Linked DNA regions of Homo sapiens. The protein of the gene in region 2 purifies or fractionates together with the protein of the main gene of each other region. This does not show direct contact. Each region holds a gene or a part of one and is shown on either strand. Other genes may lie near its edges.

Evidence for each region. The genes of interacting proteins can lie anywhere in the genome.
Region 1: the proteins of CDKL5 (region 2) and SAR1B purify together in Homo sapiens (affinity purification with mass spectrometry, with the first as the bait; one large-scale study listed by BioGRID). This does not show direct contact.

Annotation. Positions count from the first base shown.
Region 1 is NC_000005.10:134,615,733-134,619,333, forward strand, and holds part of SAR1B (small COPII coat GTPase SAR1B), read right to left. Parts: intron 1-3,601. UniProt on the Homo sapiens protein: Small GTPase that cycles between an active GTP-bound and an inactive GDP-bound state and mainly functions in vesicle-mediated endoplasmic reticulum (ER) to Golgi transport.
Region 2 is NC_000023.11:18,607,033-18,610,633, reverse strand, and holds part of CDKL5 (cyclin-dependent kinase-like 5), read right to left. Parts: intron 1,824-3,601; coding exon 1,722-1,823; intron 1,170-1,721; coding exon 1,064-1,169; intron 1-1,063. UniProt on the Homo sapiens protein: Mediates phosphorylation of MECP2. May regulate ciliogenesis.

The sequences.
Region 1 (3,601 bases), on a different chromosome or scaffold from region 2:
CATGAACGCGGGAGGCGGAGCTTGCAGTGAGCCGAGATTGCACCACTGCACTCTAGCCTGGGCGACAGAGCAAGACTCCGTCTCAAAAAATAACAATAATAAATAAAGAAATTCTGTATGTAGGCCAGGTGCAGTGGCTCATGCCTCTAATCCCAGCACTTCGGGAGGCCGAGGCGGGTGGATCACTTGAGACATCAGGAGTTCTGAGACCAGCCTGGCCAATGTGGTGAAACCCCGTCTCTACTAAAAATACAAAAATTAGCCAGGCGTGGTGGCAGATGCCTGTAATCCTAGCTACTAGGGAAGCTGAGACAGGAGAATGTGGCAGGCGGAGGTTGCAGTGAGCCGAGACTGGCCACTGCACTCCAGCCTGGGCAACAGAGCGAGACTCCATCTCGGAAAAAAAAAAAAAAAAAAAAGGGCAGGGCACACGGTGGCTCATGCCTGTAATCCCAGCACTTTGGAAGGCCGAGGGGGGCGGATCACCTGAGGTGAGGAGTTCGAGACCATCCTGGCAAACATGGTGAAATCCCGTCTCTACTAAAAATACAAAAATTAGCCGGGAGTGGTGGTAGGCTCCTGTAATCCCAGCTACTCGAGAGGCTGAGGCAAGAGAATCGCTTGAACCCGGGAGGTGGAGGTTGCAGTGAGCTGAGATCATACCATTGCACTCCAGCCTGGGGGACAAGAGCGAGACTTTGTCTCAAAAAAAAAAAAAAAAGAAAGAAAGAAATTCTATGTGTAGATTGCCAAATGAATAAAATATTTAATACAATCTATATTCAAAGTCACTGTTCATAAGGAAAAGATAATGCTTAGTTAGCAAACCACCTCTATGGTAATAATCCCCAATATACTTTCTGCTTTATAAAAGAAGTCTGAATTAGGCTATTTAAGATACAGAACACTGTTAACATCCCAGAAAGTCTCCTCTAGCCCCTTCCCAGTCAATCCCCATTTTCATCTCCGGAAGCAACCACTGATCTGAATTCTATCACCACAGGTTAGTTTTGTCTGTTCTAGAATTTCATATAAATGGTATCATACAGTAGATAACTTTTTATGACCAGCTTCTGCCATGTAGCATAATATGACTGAATGTATCAGTGGTTTATTCATCTTTCTTGCTAAGTAGCATTCCATTATTTATCAATTTCCTTTTTGATGGACATTTGAGGTGTTTCCAGTTTTTGGCTATTACAAATAAAATTAGTATAGGCTGGGTATGGTGGCTCACACTTGTAATCCCAGCACTTTGGGAGGCTGGATGGGAGGATCGCTTGAGCCCAGGAGTTCAAGACCAGCCTAAGCAACATGGTGAAACCCTATCTCTACAAATAAATTAAAAAATTAGCCAGATGTGGTAGCATGTGCCTGTAGTTCGAGCTACTTGGGAGACTGAGGTGGGAGGAACACTTGAACCTGGGAGGTTGAGGCTGCAGTGAGCCGCGATTGTGCCATTGCACTCCAGCCTGGGCCACAGAGTGAGACACTGACTCAAAAAAAAAAAATAATAATAACTCACCACCAACAAATAAAGCTAGTATAAACATTTTTGTACAAGGTTTTTGGTAAATGTATTTTCTCATTTCTCTCGGGTAAGTAACTAGGAGTAGAACTGCCAGATCATAGGATATATGTAGGTTTTCACATATGCTTTTTTTTCCTTTTCAAAAATGTTTTCTTTTCCACACCAGAATAGATCACATATGCTTTTGATTAATTAAAAAATATGAGTTGAAATGAATGTGAGCTGCAGGAAAGGTTGAGATAGCATCTGTTTTCCCCTAGTATCCAGAACAATGTCTGACATAAAGTAGGTGCTCAATAAATATTTGAATAAATGAAATAGAGCAACGTCAAAAAATTAAAAAATGACTTACACCTAATATTTAAGACCACTCTGTAGTCTCTTCCAGTTATGCTGGTTTTTGTTGGGTTTTTTTTCTGTGTTTTTTGTTTTTTTCGAGACAGAGTCTCCCTCTGTCGCCCAGGCTGGAATGCAGTGGCGCCATCTTGGCTCACTGCAACCTCCGCCTCCCGGGTTCAAGCAATTCTCCTGTCTCTGCCTCCCGAGTAGGTGGAATTACAGGCACGTGCCACCGTGTCCGGCTAATTTTTGTATTTTTAGTACAGAACGGGTTTCACGATGTTGGCCAGGTTGGAAATTACGCTGTTTTTGCAGACAATTTTATCTACTCAATTTCACCATGATCATTTTTTCTTTAACAGAATTGTTCTTATATCAGAATCTTACTTGCCAAGCCCCACTTTTTTCTCCTAATATAAAAAAAAGATTTGTTGGCCGGGCGCAGTGGCTGACGCCTGTAATCCCAGCACTTTGGGAGGCCGAAGCGGGCAGATCACGAGGTCAGGAGATCGAGACCATCCTGGCTAACACAGTGAAACCCTGTCTCTACTAAAAATACAAAAAATTAGCCAGGCGTGGTGGCGGGCACCTGTAGTTCCAGCTACTCGGGAAGCTGAGGCAGGAGAATGGTGTGAACTTGGGAGGCGGAGGTTGCAGTGAGTCGAGATCGTGCCACTGCACTCCAGCCTGGGTGACAGAGCGAGACTCCATCTCAAAAAAAATAAAAAGAAAAAAAAGATTTGTCAATTTCCTTTTCCAACCTCACTAATTGTTTTATAGATAAAATACTTTGTTTTGTTCTATCCTCATTCTTTGTTCTTTGAACATTTACTGGACTAAATAATTACAGTATTATCTACTTTTTGGTCCAGTTCTCAATTTTATATTCATTATTAAGGCTACACTTACTATTTCATAATTAATCTATAGATTAACTTGTCTTTAAACTCTGTGTCTATCTGATTCATAAAATTTTCACCTGTAAAAGTAAGGTCACAGGTTAAATTAGGTTTCTGTTTCTAATAATTTACCCACTTTAACATTAACTTTATTCTCAAATTCGTTACATAACCTTAAATGCAAAATAAAATTTATTAAATAATTTACAGAGTCAGCCAAGTGTGGTGGCTCACGCCTGTAATCCCAACACTTTGGGAGGCCAAGGCAGGTGGATCACTTGTGGCCAGGAGTTCGAGACCAGCCTGGCCAACATGGCGAAACCTGGTCTCTACTAAAAATACAAAAATTAGCTGGGCTTGGTAGCACATGCCTGTAATCCCAGCTATTCCAGTGGCTGAGGCAGGAGAATTGCTTGAGCCCAGGAGGCAGAGGTTGCAGGGAGCCGAGATGGTGCCACTGCACTTCAGCCTAGGCAACAGAGTGAGACTCTGTCTCAAAAAAGGAAAAAAAAAAAATTAGAGTCATTATTAAAAAACATTATTTTTGGCCAAGTGTGGTGGCTCATGCCTGTAATCCCAGCACTTTGGGAGACTGAGGTGGGCGGATCATCTGAGGTCGGGAGTTTGAGACCAGCCTGGCCAACATGTTGAAACCCCGTCTCTACTAAAAATACAAAACATTAGCTGGGTGTGGTAGCACATGCCTGTAATCTGAGCTACTTGGGAGGCTGAGGCAGGAGAATTGCTTGAACTCAGAAGGCAGAGGTTGCAGTGAGCCGAGATCGTGCCATTGCTCTCCAGCGTGGGCAACAGAGCAAGACTCCATCTCAAA
Region 2 (3,601 bases):
AAAGTACATTTTAGCCCGTGCAAGTACACTTGAAATTTTTCTTTAATTCAATTGACAAATATTTATGAAACTGTGCGAGGCAGTGTACTAGTCAATGAGAATAAAAAGAAGAGAACACGAAGAGAACTGAATGTCTCACAACCTTGTGAGAGAGAACTCAGACAAAGAATCAGTGCAATGTGGTCAGTGTTACATCAGAGTTACAGGCAAGGTACGACAGACAGAACGGAGAAGAAAATGTTTCAGTCCATCTGGAACAAACTGTGGGAAGATATTATACTGAAGAGGACCTTAAAGAAAGGGACAGAAACAAGCTGTTCCAGCAGGAGGAAGAGTACATTACAGGCCAGAGGAGGGCACAGCCTGTGCAGTCCCATAGGCTGGGTACGAGAGAGACCTGGGGGGTGGGGGAGAAAGTGGCTGGAGAGCATGGCAAGGGCCAGATCATGGGAAGTCTGGAATGACATCCTAGAGAATTCAGATTTTGTCCTGATGCCAATGGGAAGCCACCAAAAGACTCTCAACAGGTGAGTGATAGGGGATTAGGAGTAGGGTGGGGTGGGGTGGGCAATGGGATGCCTTGCTCTATTTTTTCCCCCCTTGTAGCACTTAATATCTTTTACTGCTCTATATAATTATTATGTTTAGTGTCCATCTCTCCTCCCGAGGAAGTGAGTTCCGTGATGGTGAAGATCTTTGACTATCTTGTTCACCAACAAGTTCTAAGCCAGAACAGTGCCAGACACACAGGTAACATCAATAAGTATGTTATGGCTTGACAGAACAAAATGAGTGGTATGGTCAGAACACAGCTTCAGAAGGATCACTCTAGTCTCTATATTGATGGGTACCTTGGAGATAGGGAGACCAGTTAAGAGGCTACCTAAGGAGGCCAATTCATAAGCCAGGAGGGCCTGACTTAGCAGGAGCAGAGGCAGGGAGAACCGCTGGAAGGCGACAGTGTAGGTGAGAAGGCCGCTGGCCTGAGTCGGTGAAAGCAGTGTGCACATAAAGTGAGAGAGGGAGGAGAGGGGAACCTGTTGAATGCCGGGGGTGGGCTTACCTCTGTAAAAGCTACCAACTCTCCTTGGCACAGGATCATTGTATAGGTGTCTATTTTCTTTGGGGGCTGTGCCATCATCAGAGTGTGGGTCATGATACACTCCACCCTGAGGCAGGAAAGAAATTTATAAAAGTTAAGCCACACATTGATGACAATATTGCCTATGACTTTTTTCTTGAGACAGGGTCTCACTCTATTGCCCAGGCTGTAGTGCAGTAGTAGGATCATGGCTTACTGTAGCCTTGACTGCCCCAGTTCAAGCAATCCTCCTGCCTCAGCCTCCCGAGTAGCTGGGACTACAGGCACACGCTGCTACACCCAGCTAATTTTTTAAACTTTTTGTAGAGATGGGGTCTTGCTATGTTGCCCAGGCTGGTCTTGAACTCCTGGACACAAGCAATCCTCCCACCTCAGCCTCCCAAAGTGCTGGGATTACATGTGTGAGCCACCTGGCCCAAATTTAGAACCGTACCTAATCAATCTATAATTGACTTAATGATCTTTTTGAAAGAAAACTCAGAATTATGCCACAAGGAAAACTACTTACTTTATAAGCCACTTCAACTTATTTGTGGGAGACTGGGTATTAATACATTTTAAAAGCTAGGCAGTAATGATGTTGAACAAATGTTTACAGGCATATTTTATTGTGACATACCTCAGACTTCTGGCGTGTATGGAAGGAAGAGGTGCCTTCTCTGGAGGTCTCTTTGACCGAAGATCTTGCCACAGTCATCTCTGGAGGGAGCTGTTCTCCAGGCTGGAAGTAAAATTTAAAAGGATTTATAAGAGCATCCTGTTCCTAGGGATGGAACTCATCATGGCCTTTATTTGGTAGAACTAGGACCATAACCAGCTAAAATAAAAAATGTTAGTTGGCTAAAATACAAATAGTCCCATAAAAGTGAATAATCTGATGAATGTAATATAAGTCAAATTTCACACAGATGGAAAGTAAAATTCTCATTAAAGTTAAGGCAAGCAGAGAACAAATTAGTCTGAAAATAGTTCAATTAATTATTAAAAACAAAAAAAATTACCATTCTAATATCTAGACAGTCATGGTTCTGAGCGGCCCTCTGATTAGGAATTCTATTAGTTTATCTGAAATTTCTCTAGCAGATTTTAAGTCTGAGTTCTCCAAAATGAACTGTGCAGTTCCAAAAGTATATTTCATGCAGGACTTATATGGCAAAGTCAGATGAAAATAAATGATTTTTGAATATATCAAGGAATAGAGTAAGTCCTTTTAATAATTTTTTGTGTTAAAATCCTCTTAACTACTATAGTTTATGTGCTTAAATTCTTGTCTTAATCTTCTCTAGGATAACAGCACTTATGTTTCATGTATTTTCTGAAGCCAAATCATGATAGTGCTCATCTCCAAAGACATACCACTATCTTTCTCTCTCAAGGAAGTGAGTCACAAGCTAAGAACAGTACTCGGTCCACAATGGTGTTCACCGAGGGGAAAAAACACAGCATTTTCTATCATCAGAAAAAAAGATTAAGGAAGAAAATTACCAAGTCATTAGAAGGAGTTCGCTGCATCGTATATCTGTATATTATGCACAGAAAAGGGCATTACCTTAAGCCTATGTGACATATCAAAAACATTTTATTTAAGATTTAAAATATGATTATTTTTCTCCCTCTCATTCTCCAAATGTACTCTGAGGATTCTGGGCAGGAATTCATCCAACATAGCCTTCCTTCTTTCTATTTTATGAAAATGTCTCATTTGACTTTTACCACCTGTACTGTTTACAAAGGCCTCTACAAAAATTATTTTAAGAAAACAAATTATTAACATCTAATATAAACTCAGTAAGAGTCTCTGTGCTTTTCAAGGTGGCCCGATACTTTGCATGGGAGTGATTCCTAGGATTCACTCACAGCTTAAGTTACTTTTCCAGCCTTCTGGTATCTTTGTGCTTTTAAACTTGTACTTTCTTGCAGCTGGGCACTGTACCTCCTGAACTGGCCTTCACAGTCTGTAACAGATCTGTGCTTAGCCCACAGTAACTGTTTATAATTCGTTTATGACCACCATGTTCACAAAAATTCTTTTCCTGGAATTCTCAGAGAGCAATTACTTTTTCTAAGTTAAAAAGCTATTTGTTTTTCCGATTTCTTCTCCATTTTATACCATGCTGAATGCTAGCACATTTTACCCAATTTTCCCTTCCATGTCTCCTCTGCAGGAAGCTGCCAGATCTTTCTAGGCTCTGGAGGTTCTTTCTCCCGACAGCATCTCCTCAGGGCTCCTCTGACCATTCCTCTGACTCCACTTCCAGCCTCTGCAAATGGGCACCTCTTGCTTTCTCCTTTCACCTGGGTGCCAGACCATCTTTTTAGCCTCTTAGAGCACACTTCTGCTTAGAGGCCAAGGTCACTTCAAATTCAACATGTCCGCAAGACACCAGTGGCAAGCAGCTGGCCTCAGCACCTGGAGCTTGCCTCATAATCCCAGCTCCATCCTGAGCTGGTTGGGTAAACTTGGAGCAACTCACCCAACTTCTCTGAGCTTCGACATGC